Regions from separate parts of the Homo sapiens genome. Here region 1 is linked to region 2. A link means that fine-mapping ties the variant in region 2 to the expression of a gene that starts in the linked region. Tissue or cell type: whole blood. Region 2 holds a variant in brackets; the other region holds the start of a gene. Each region is shown on its reference strand, or each on the opposite one. Region 1 holds the start of FKBP8 (FKBP prolyl isomerase 8). Region 2 overlaps SLFN14 (schlafen family member 14).

Region 1 (5,375 bases), not on the chromosome of region 2:
AAAATACAAAAATTAGGGGCCAGGTGTGCTGGCTCACACCTGTAATCTCAGCACTTTAGGAGGCCAAGGCAGGTGGATCACCTGAGGTCAGGAGTTCGAGACCAGCCTGGCCAATGTGGTGAAACCCTGTCTCTACTAAAAATACAAAAATCAGCCAGGCATAGAGGTGGGCACCTGTAGTCCCAGCTACTCAGGAGGCTGAGGCAGAAGAATCGCTTGAACCTGGGAGGCGGAGGTTGCAGTGAACTGAGATCGCACCACTGCATTCCAACCTGGGTGACAGAGTCAGACTCTGTCTCAAAAAAAAAAAAAAAAGTAGTAAGATTTTTATCAGTAGTGGTGGTGATATTTAGTAATATTTCTGTTCCATCAGTGTCAATATGATTGGAAACTATTGCTACAGTATTGTTATTACAATTGATAGTGGTAATGATATCTTATTATTTGCATGGGCACCAGCATTATTTGGTATATTAGATATCAGTACTATACTAGTAGCAAGACGTCTTCCACAGAAAACTAACATTTCTCTTGTTTTCAGTTGCTGTGATGGGGTATGTTGGGGGGAACATGTGGGGGCTCATGTAGTTTTCTTCTTGTAGGATTGCTCTGAGCATTTACAATACTATCACTACTGTGAACCAACCAGAAGGCTGAACAAAATAACATTCCTCTGATCCACTTGACCCCAGAACACATTTTTTGTTTTGGAAGTTGGGGTCTCGCTGTGTTGCCCAGGCTGGCGTGCACTCAGGACACATTTTTCAGAGCCCAAGCATGTGTCAGACAAATGCCAAAAAAAGATGCATTGATGGGGTTAGGAGCTGCCAGCGCCTGGCGTGCTGGCTGTGTGGCTCTGGGCAGGTGACTCAGCCTCTCTGAGCCACTGTTAGCAGATCTGGGAAACGGGGACACAGCACATTGTGCATGTGTGTGAGTCAGTGGATAGAGTACATCAATGTGAAGCATCTCCAGTAGTTGCCTCTGGCTGGTGATCACGGTGGTGACCACGTGACTTCCAACCCTCACAGCACAGATGGGGAAATGAGGCTCAGGGGACGAGAGGGCCAGGGCCAAGGGCACCCTGATCCACCTTTGCTCCTTACCCAGAATGTCCAGCCACTCTTCTGGGGCCGGGGCTGGGGCGGGCTCGGGCTCCATGGCAGCAAGGAACTCTCGGGCCAGGGCCCCAGGCTGCTCAGCCTCCTCCGCCGGGGGTTGTCCCATGTCCTCCAGCGGTGGCAGCTCACTCAGGTCATCCTCTTCCTCCTCTTCCTCCTCCTCTTCCTCCTCACCCTCTGCATCCTCAACCCCATCCAGTACCTCGAAGTCCTCGAGCGGTGGGACCCCGGCGGGCAGTGGGGCAGAGGGCTCAGAGGGTTCAGCACACGATGCCATGCTGCTGGGGGGACAGGAATTGGCCCTGGAAGTGGGGGGCAGAGATGTGGGTCAGAATCCTACACAGCCCCTCAAAGTCTCCACTGTACTGATTCCCCACACTGCCGATCACTTTCTGTGTAACTCAAGGGCTCCAGGCCTCAGTTTCCTCATCTATACAGTGGGTGTAACAACAACCCCAGCTTGTTGGGAGAAATTAACCCATGCATCAAGCCCTTGGCATCAGGCTCAAATAGTGTTAGCCATTATTAGAGCTAATTATTATTTAATGTTTACAAATACTCCAGGAAGTAGGGAAGATTCCCCTCAACATTTTGCAGAACAGGAAACAGGCCAGAGGGGCAAAGGCATTTGCCCAAGGTCACAGAGAAAGCCAAAGGCCAAAGGAGGATTTGAACCTGGGGCTTCAGGCCCTGTGGCTTTGCCTGATTATAAGCTGAGCGAAGGGTGCTGGGATTTTTGTGGAGAGGACAGCCTCCGAGGCCTTAGGGAAGCCATTTTTAGAGCCTCTAAGGCCACTGGGGGAAATTGAATCTTTTACCAGGGCCTCCCACCTCCAGCCTCTTCTCCAAAGGGGAGACCCTCCCCAAAAGCACCAACTGTAATCACCCAGAAACCCCAAGCGTTTTTTCCTTCCACACTCTGAATCTAACACTATCCCCCACAACCCCAACATCAGGGACCCTGGCCCAAATCCTTCCCCAGGAGACCATCCTCCTCTCATCAGGCCTCGGTCCCACCCCCTCAAAGCAGCCTCCTTTCCAGGAGTGGTCGAGGTCCCACCACATTCTACAGCCTCTTCCTTGCCCCAGACCTCCTGAACCAATAACCAACCCCTCCGTCCCCCAGGCCCCAAGCTCAGAAGAGTGTGGCACAGCCATCAAACCAGCCCGCCGCATCCCCTCCCTAACCCTCACCTGCCTGCTCCTCCCGGGCTCGGAGCCCCACTTTGAGAGACCCTCCCAGCCCCCACCCCCATAATTCCCCGCGCCCGCACAATTCGGCCTCCCCTCCCACCCCCCACCCCAACCACCACCGCCCCCAGCACGGGCCAGCTCCCCCCACAGCCGCTCCGTCTCGCCGTAAACACTCCAGTGTCCCCAGACGCCCCCCCCTTTCCGATCCCATAACACCCCACGCTCTCCTGACGCCCCACAGCCCCGGCCGGGCCCTCAGTCAAGCCGCGACCCAGGCCCCCAACGACCCACGCCTGTCTGACGCCACCAGTCTGGGGCACCCGACCCCCGCACGCCTCGGGCGCCCCTGGCCCTGCACGCCTCCATCGGGACCCCCCCACTGGATCCCCTTTGCCCCCAGTGACCCCCATCCCTGGCCACCCCCGCCCGGCCGCGCCCCCTCGGGCACCCCCGACCCCCGTGCCCCCCCGGCTCGCCACCCCCGCGGCCCCTCGCCCCGCCCATCGGCCGCAGCCCCCGGCGCGCTAGCCCCCGGACCAGCCTAGGCCAGGGCAGCGGCCCGGCCGGCACGGCGCCCCCAGCACCCCAGGACACTTGCCTCTGGCTCCGGGACCCCCACTTGGGGTCCTGCGCCCCCCTCCCCGCCCCCAGCCGCGGCCGCCGCGCCTCGGGAACCAGGTTCGGCCGCTTGGCCCCGCCCCTGCCGTGCCCATTGGCCGCCGCTGCCGCGACTGCCGCACCCGTTGGCTCATGCAGACGTCCGTCCCGGGCGTTGGCACCTCCCCCTTCCTGCTTGGCCCCGCGGGGCGTTCTTAAAGGGACCGAAGCCTCCCGGCTGCTGGGGCTGGGGCGGGGGCTGGGGCGGGGGCTGGGGCGGGGGCTGGGGCGGGGGCGGGGGACCCTGGGCTGGACCCCAACACGGGTCAGTATCGCGCAGCCTGTGCGACTCCTGCCTCTCCTCTGAGCTTCATCCTGACCATCTGCGAAATGGGGATAAACACCCCCATCTATGCACTCTCACCTTGGGGGCTGCTGGGGGCACAGTCCACTCTAAATGTTATTTCCTTAAAGAGTTCAAGCTTGACGGGCAGGGCAGCTCTGGGGTTGCTGAATGACCCATCCTGAAGCCTTAGTTACAGAAGTGAACCTGAGGGCCTGAGGAGGAGTGACGTGCCCAAAGGCATACAGAAACCTCCCTCCCATCCCCCACACAGTTTAATGTCTAGAAGGTTGCCTGGTGCATACTGGAGGCGCTCGATTACTGCTGCGCAGGCGACTGAGCCAGCAGGGCCACTGGGAGGAGTTCCTCCTCTATGCACTGTCTGCTGGAGGGTGATAAGGTCCCCATGGCTCGGGAAGAAGGTGGCATCCTTGATTAGCTAAGTTTTTGTGGATCTTGTTTTGAAACCGGGACACTTCTCCCTCCTTCACTCAGTTTTATTTCCTTCCTAGCAGTTACTCCTTCCAGAATTATCTTGTCATTATTTTGCTTGTGGTTGGAGGGACCATCCCTCACTCTGCTTCATCCTGGCAGAGATTTTTACCTGATTTGTACCCAGCACCTCCTTGAACCATGCCTGGCATCTATAGAAGCTCAATAAATGGGTAGGTGGATGGATGGATGGATGGATGGATGGATGGATGGATGGATGAGTCAGACACCAGCTTTTGGAGGTAGCTATCATGGAGGTGGTAACTGGCTTTTTGGAGATCACTTCTAAGGTTGGAGTTCCCAGGTTACCTCCTACAGGAAGCCCTCCCAACCTCCCCAAGGCAAGACCAGGTGCCCCCTTTAGCTGTCTTGGCACAATGAAGTTGATGAACGTCCACTTCATAACTAGTTTACTTGGGTTTTTTGTTTGTTTGTTTGTTTTTGTTTTTTGAGAAGAAGTTTCACTCTTGTTGCCCAAGCTGGAGTGCAATGGCGCAATCTCAGCTCACCGCAACCGCTGCCTCCCAGGTTCAAGCGATTCTCCTGCCTCAGCCTTCCAAGTAGCTGGGAGTAGAGGCATGCACCACCATGCCTGGCTAACTTTGTATTTTTAGTAGACACGGGATTTCTTCATGTTGGTCAGGCTGGTCTCAAACTCCCGACCTCACGTGATCCGCCCACCTCGATGTACCAAAGATTACAGGCATGAGCCATCGTGCCTGGCCTTTTTTTTTTTTTTCTTTCTCTTTTTTTTTTGAGACAGAGTCTCTCTCTGTCGCCAGGCTGGAGTGCAGTGGCGCGATCTCGGCTCACTGCAACATCCACCTCCTAAGTTCCAACGATTCTCCTGCTTCAGCCTCCTGAGTAGCTGGGACTACAGGCACCCGCCACCATGCCCAGCTAATTTGTATATTTTTAGTAGAGACAGGGTTTCACCATGTTGGCCAGGATGGTCTGGAACTCCTGACCTCATGATCTGCCTGCCTCGGCTTCCCAAACTAGTTTACTTATATCTCTGCCTTTTTTTTTTTGAGATAGGGTCTTACTTTGAAACCCAGGCTGGAGTGCAGTGGCACGATCTCAGATCACTGCAACCATGTCTATCTCCTGGGCTCACGCAATCCTCCTGCCTCAGCCTCCTGAGTAGCTGGGCCCACAGGTGCACCATCATGTCCAGCTAATTTTTTTTTTTTTTTTTGAGACAGAGTCTCGCTGTGTAGCCCAGGCTAGAGTGCAGTGGCGCAATCTCGGCTCACTGCAAGCTCCGCCTCCCAGGTTCACACCATTCTCCTGCCTCAGCCTCCCAAGTAGCTGGGACTACAGGCGCCTGCCACCATGCCCGACTAATTTTTTGTATTTTTAGTAGAGTCAGCGTTTCATCGTGTTAGCCAGGATAGTCTCGATCTCCTGACCTTGTGATCTGCCCACCTCGGCCTCCCAAAGTGCTGAAATTACAGGCGTGAGCCATCGCGCCCGGCCCAATGTTTATATTTTTTGTAGAGATGGGGTTTCCCCATGTTGCCCAGGCTGGTCTCGAACTCCTGGGCTCAAGCAATCCTCCCACTTTGGCCTCCCAAACTGTTGGGATTATAGGCGTGAGCCACTGCTTTGATTTACCTCTGCCTTGC
Region 2 (5,375 bases):
CATCAGAACTACTAACATTCCAAGTCACATGACCAAGGCCACATTACAGGGGTGGAAAATATCTCTACCTCTAATGTTAGTAACTACAAAGGGTATAGATATAGAGAGGTAGGAAATATTGGGAACAATAATGTAGTCTATAGCAATATCTCACAAAACAATTAAATGGAAAAAGCACACATATACGTTATAAAGTTGATGGCACAACTTGATCATAACTGTGTGAAAATATTTTTCCATATCAACAAAGAATAGAAATAAATAAGCAAAAATGAAAAAATGTTACACCCAGATAACAAGATGATTTAAGAACTTTTTTTTTTTTTTTTTGAGACAGAGTTTCACTCTTGTTGCCCAGGCTGAAGTGCAGTGGCGCAATCTCAGCTCACTGCAACCTCCACCTCCCAGGTTCAAGCAATTCTCCTGCCTCAGCCTCCCAAGTAGCTGGGATTACAGGCATGCGCCACCATGCCCAGCTAATTTTGTATTTTTAGTGGAGACAGGGTTTCTCCATGTTGGTCAGGCTGGTCTTGAACTCCTGACCTCAGGTGATTCACCCACCTCAGCCTCCCAAAGTGCTAGGATTACCAGCATGAGCCCCTGCGCCCAGCCTGATTTAAGAACTTTTAATTTTGCCTTTCTCCATTTCCGAAGCTTCCATGATAATATTATATTACCCTTCTTTTTAAAAGTAAGTTTTAGAAGCTTCTCACAGTTTCTAAAGCTTCTCTTTTATCTTAGTTATTTCATTTAGTTAATTGCTTTATCCATCATATTAAGACTTTGTAGAAAACATTGAGAATTCTAAAACAACCAAGTTAGTCCATTATTCTTAGTCCCCACCAGTTCCTAATCTTACATTTGAATCTAATGAACTATCATCATAGATCCTTAATTTGACCTGTTGCCTAAAAACAATTGAGTTGCCTTTATTGTTCCCTTATTCTTCATTATTACAGTGTTAAAGATTATTCTCCACACTGACTTCTTTGAAATCTCTAACATTAGAAATTCATACTATCGAATTGAATCATTGTAGATTCTAGTTTTCTAAAAGCTACAAGTACAATTCAGCAAATATTTACTGAGCACCTGCCCTGTGTGAGGCACTGTACTAGTTGCTCTAGGGGAAATAAGGATGTGTAAGTGACTCATCCTCTTACTCTCAAGGAGCTCACAGTCTTAATAGGAAGAGAAATGTGCACACATTTTTTGAGGACAGAAAGAACAGACTAGGAGAAGGGTTCAATGGTTCTCAACCCTTGTGACATATTAGAATCATTTGGATTTTTTTTAAGAGATAGAGTCTTGCTCTGTAACCCAGGCTGGAGTGCAGTGGAGTAATCATAGGTCACTGTAGCCTCAAACTCCTGGGCTCAAGTGATCCTCCCACCTTGGCCTCTGGAGTAGCTAGGATTAAAAGCATGCACCACCATGCCCAACTAAGTTTTTAAAAAAATTTTTTTTGTAGAGATGGGGTCTTGTTATGTTGCCCAGGCTGGTCTCCAACTCCTGGCTTCAAGTGATTCCCCCAGACCTCAGCCTCTCAAAGTTCTGGTATTACAGGCACCAGCCACTGCACCCTGCCTGGACAACATTTAATAAATACCGATGCCCGAGCCTGTGTTCAGACACACTGAGGTTAATTAGTCTGGTGTCTGGCCTGATCACTGATTTTTTTTAAGTCGCCCAGGAAATTATAATGAGCATCCAGGGTTGAGAATCACTGAGTTAGTTATTCTACTTTCATCCTGATTGAATTGTTTCACTAGACTAAGAACTGACAAAGACTCTCAAATTCAATATTTAAAACAATTCTTTACAAATCAATTCTTTTATTAAAAATTATATGATGCATGCATATATTTTAAAAAGTCAAATGGTACTAAGGCTTATGACTAAAATATAGCAATTCCTTGTCCCACTCATACTCCTTCATACTCTGTTGACTTTGACTGTTTAAATTATTTTTATAGAATTCATACATCTCCCTACATCAGAATGTCAATGCACTGGCATCTTTTGCAAAACCGATTGCTGAACTTCATTTCCTCCTATCCAAAACTACCCTAAAGCCCCCAAGGAAAGGTAAAAAGGAAGAAACACCAGGTAATTAGAGCAGTAGGAAGCAAGGGAGAGGTTTTTCTTTTCAACCCGTGCCTAGGTACAGACTAGCCCTTCTAATGGGCCTAAGCAATTCAGAAAGGCAGCTAAGAGAGCTTCTCGAAACCCTGCCTGCTCTTCCACCTCTTGGAAGGCTGAGGGGCTTTATCTAAAATCATAACCAAAATTTCCACATGTCTCCTGGATTCAAGCCTCCCCAGAGTCAATCAAGTTATCCTAAACTTTTCTAGAAGTTAAAAACAGTTTGGAAATATGAATACTTCCAAAGCAATTTAAAAATCCTTGCAAAAGCAAGAGTAATTTGAAGAGTACAGAATTGGCTCAGCCATTTGGGGAACTGACTAGAAAAGGGGAACTTTGATTTCATTTCTAATATGTATCATATACATTGGAAAGTTTCACTTAGGGAGATAATAAAAGTTTAATTGAGGTAGTAGGCATTTGAAAAAGGATGTGATTGCCAAGTAAGGATTTCAAAGGTGGAGGGGACAGAAAAGGGTTTAAAGACTGAGAAAATGGCACAGGCACAGACCAGGAGTCGGGGATGTGTGTGGGTGGTGTTGGTGGTAAAGTTGCCACCAAGGATCCCCATAAACTCTGAGAGTTGGATTTAAAAATTAGCACCAAGTCATAATGGAAGAAATCAGAGATGTGCAAAGGCCCCTTGTAGGAAGACTACTTTCCAGGCCAGCGGCAGAGTATAAGGCATTTCTAGCCTACATGAATGTATTCACATACATAGAGGATAAATGTAGGCAAAATTTGTATATGTTGGGGGCAGTAAGGAGAGGGTTGGTGGTGAACCTGGAAATTTTAGAAACCAAGACAGAGAAAAAAAAATTCATCTGAGGGCAAAGAATAATGAAAAACTAGTCATCCTTAGCATTCTAAATTTGCTTTAGCTTGTAAACTGTAAACTAATTTGTCTAGTCCTTGTGATAGAAATATCTTTA[T/A]TTTAGAAATTATTGCAATCTTATTTTATATTAAGTTGGTGCAAAAGTAATTGTGGCTTTTGCACTTTTGCACCAACCTAATAGATATTGCAATAGTCTAATATAATCTGAAGATTTTTAAGATTTGAATCAAATTACCAGCTTCCCTTACTGTAAGGCTATGTTCATATAATTTGGCTTCCTATATTACTGTTGAGGGCACTGATTAGCAAAAGCATTTGACCCACTTATGACTATGGTCCTCACTATAAATTAACAGAGTAACATTTTGATGTATGCATTGGTCCTTTGTGAGCTTGATTAGCATAAAGCATCCCCAAGAGACTGATCTAGACTTGGTACAAAAAGGCAATCAAGTTCTGGACCTGGAAAGCTTGAGACCCATAGCCAGTATGAGGTGCCAGTCAATTGGCTACTTTTGAGACCTATGCAGTCAAAGTAACCAGCCTGGAGGGCACCATACCACCACCCAAAAATTATGCCAGGTGGGCTGGGGTGCATGAGAAACATGGGGAGATGGAGATACAATAAAGGATGTGGTTGGGAGAGCAAGTCAGGGCATATTAATGAAAGCCTTGAAAATTGGTTAGGTTTGAAGGCTGTGGGGACTCATTGAAGATATGTTAGCAAGGTATTACATAAAATCAGTTCTCTATTTGAGGAAAAATTCTCTGATGGATGACAGCTGGATTGAGTGGGAAAGCTGGAGACAGGGGACTAATGAAGTCTATTGTAATTGTATAGGTAGGAGGTGAAGGAAATTGTGAAAAGGCCAGTGGCATTGAAATAGAGTGGAAGGCTCAGCTCCAAGAGACATTTCTGTGGCTCCAGGCCATACTGATGTGCCTTGATTTCCTCACTTGTAATATTAAAATGGAGTCACTGCTACCTGTCTAGGAGAAAGGACTCTGCTCTTCCTGTCTTCCTCTATTATTTGTAATAATTTTCAGTAGGCTGCCCTCTTTTCATAAAGCAGGTAGAGGTGTTTAATGGCTCTTGAAGCAAAGCAGAGCTTATGAAATTCCTCTGACTGGTCACATTCTGGACTAAGCCCAAACACGACAGTCCTCTCCAGGCCTGAAAATTGCTGAATACTGTCTAAAACAATGTGACTTCCCCAAACACCGGTGGCCGGGCTAAACACAACCTCTGATGGTCTGTGGGTCTCAATTAATTCCATTGCTTTGAGTAGTGCAAGCCTATAGCGTCCTCTGTCCTCCCCTCTCCTGCACAGAATTGCTATATCTTTGGGCAGATAGCCACACTGGAACAGGCTGTGACATTTTCTTGCCACATAGTTAGCTATTTGTTCTGTTGTCAGATTAGTCTTTGTCTCACACACCCCAGGCAGAGCCTGGGCACACGTTGCTTCCTCATAGGCAGTCTCGCTGAACAATGCTAATGTGTCTGGAGACATGTTGGAGGGAGGATTTTCTTTGATCCTCTTCATTTCTTCTTTCATAACCTTCGCTATTTCCAGAGCACAGTGGATCCCACTGGTGATTGTTTTTCGAGGAAACTGAGCAGATGGAGGGGGAAGGCCATTGACATCTGCGTGATGGATTTGAAAAGGGTCAAGAAAAAGCCAGAGAATCCCATGGTGAAGGTTTTCACTTCCAGTCCCCTTCGCCTTTGGATGGGTGATGTTCTTAGCCTTCATGTACCAATTGCCATATTTGCTGCAGAAATTCTCAGTCTCATCCATCACTATGTGTTTAATCTTTAGAAACTCCCCTTGCATGAAAGTTTTCCTGGTCACAGCTTGGCAGGTGGTTTGTTGGCTGTAAGGACGGAAAAAACAGGGCTTGAGGCATATCAACAAAGAGAACACCAGCAGTCATTACTCTCTGGAATGGAATCAGAGGCTGATTCTCATCTGCAGGCTGAGTCATTGATTCAGTAGTGTGAATACCACAAAACTGTTCTAATTACAAGTTACCTGACAGACAGAATGCATAATTTTACACCTTGCTCTTTGGGGTTATCCAGTTAAACCTGCATGTGAAACTTCTGAAATGAACCCAGGTAACAGATTGTATTATGTCTATTAGTAATCCATTCCTACTGTTTGGCAATCCTGAAGACAAGTTCATTACATCTAAAGGAAATCTCAAAGTTAACTTACACTTCTTACTACCATTTCTTTACTTTCTATCCTCTTTAGAGCTGGAAAACAGTTTCCTCGATGCATATCATAATTTTTATGTGCAAAAAAAGCACGGACTAGTTCAAATTCCTCTAAAGCTTCTTTAGATTTTGGTAAGAGAAACATCAAGAGGATGCTGAGTTCCACGACAC

What was found. PIP is the estimated chance that this variant, and not a neighbour inherited with it, causes the effect. A credible set is the group of variants that fine-mapping cannot tell apart.
Region 1: it holds the start of FKBP8, and the variant in region 2 is the best candidate, but not a certain one, in a credible set for the expression of FKBP8 in whole blood (TOPMed, PIP 0.53).

Annotation. Positions count from the first base shown.
Region 1 is chr19:18,540,573-18,545,947 of GRCh38, forward strand. FKBP8 (FKBP prolyl isomerase 8) reads right to left here and starts at 3,001. Exons shown (of 9, transcript NM_012181.5): 1 at 2,914-3,001; 2 at 1,107-1,423. The coding sequence starts at 1,398. RefSeq lists an enhancer at 754-1,254 and a silencer at 2,817-3,246.
Region 2 is chr17:35,544,216-35,549,590 of GRCh38, forward strand. SLFN14 (schlafen family member 14) reads right to left here. Exons shown (of 6, transcript NM_001129820.2): 6 at 1-4,858. The coding sequence ends at 4,024. Among named protein-coding and RNA genes, the nearest start is that of SLFN12L, 9.2 kb to the left of the region's middle. The variant T/A (reference allele first, on the strand shown) is at 3,078.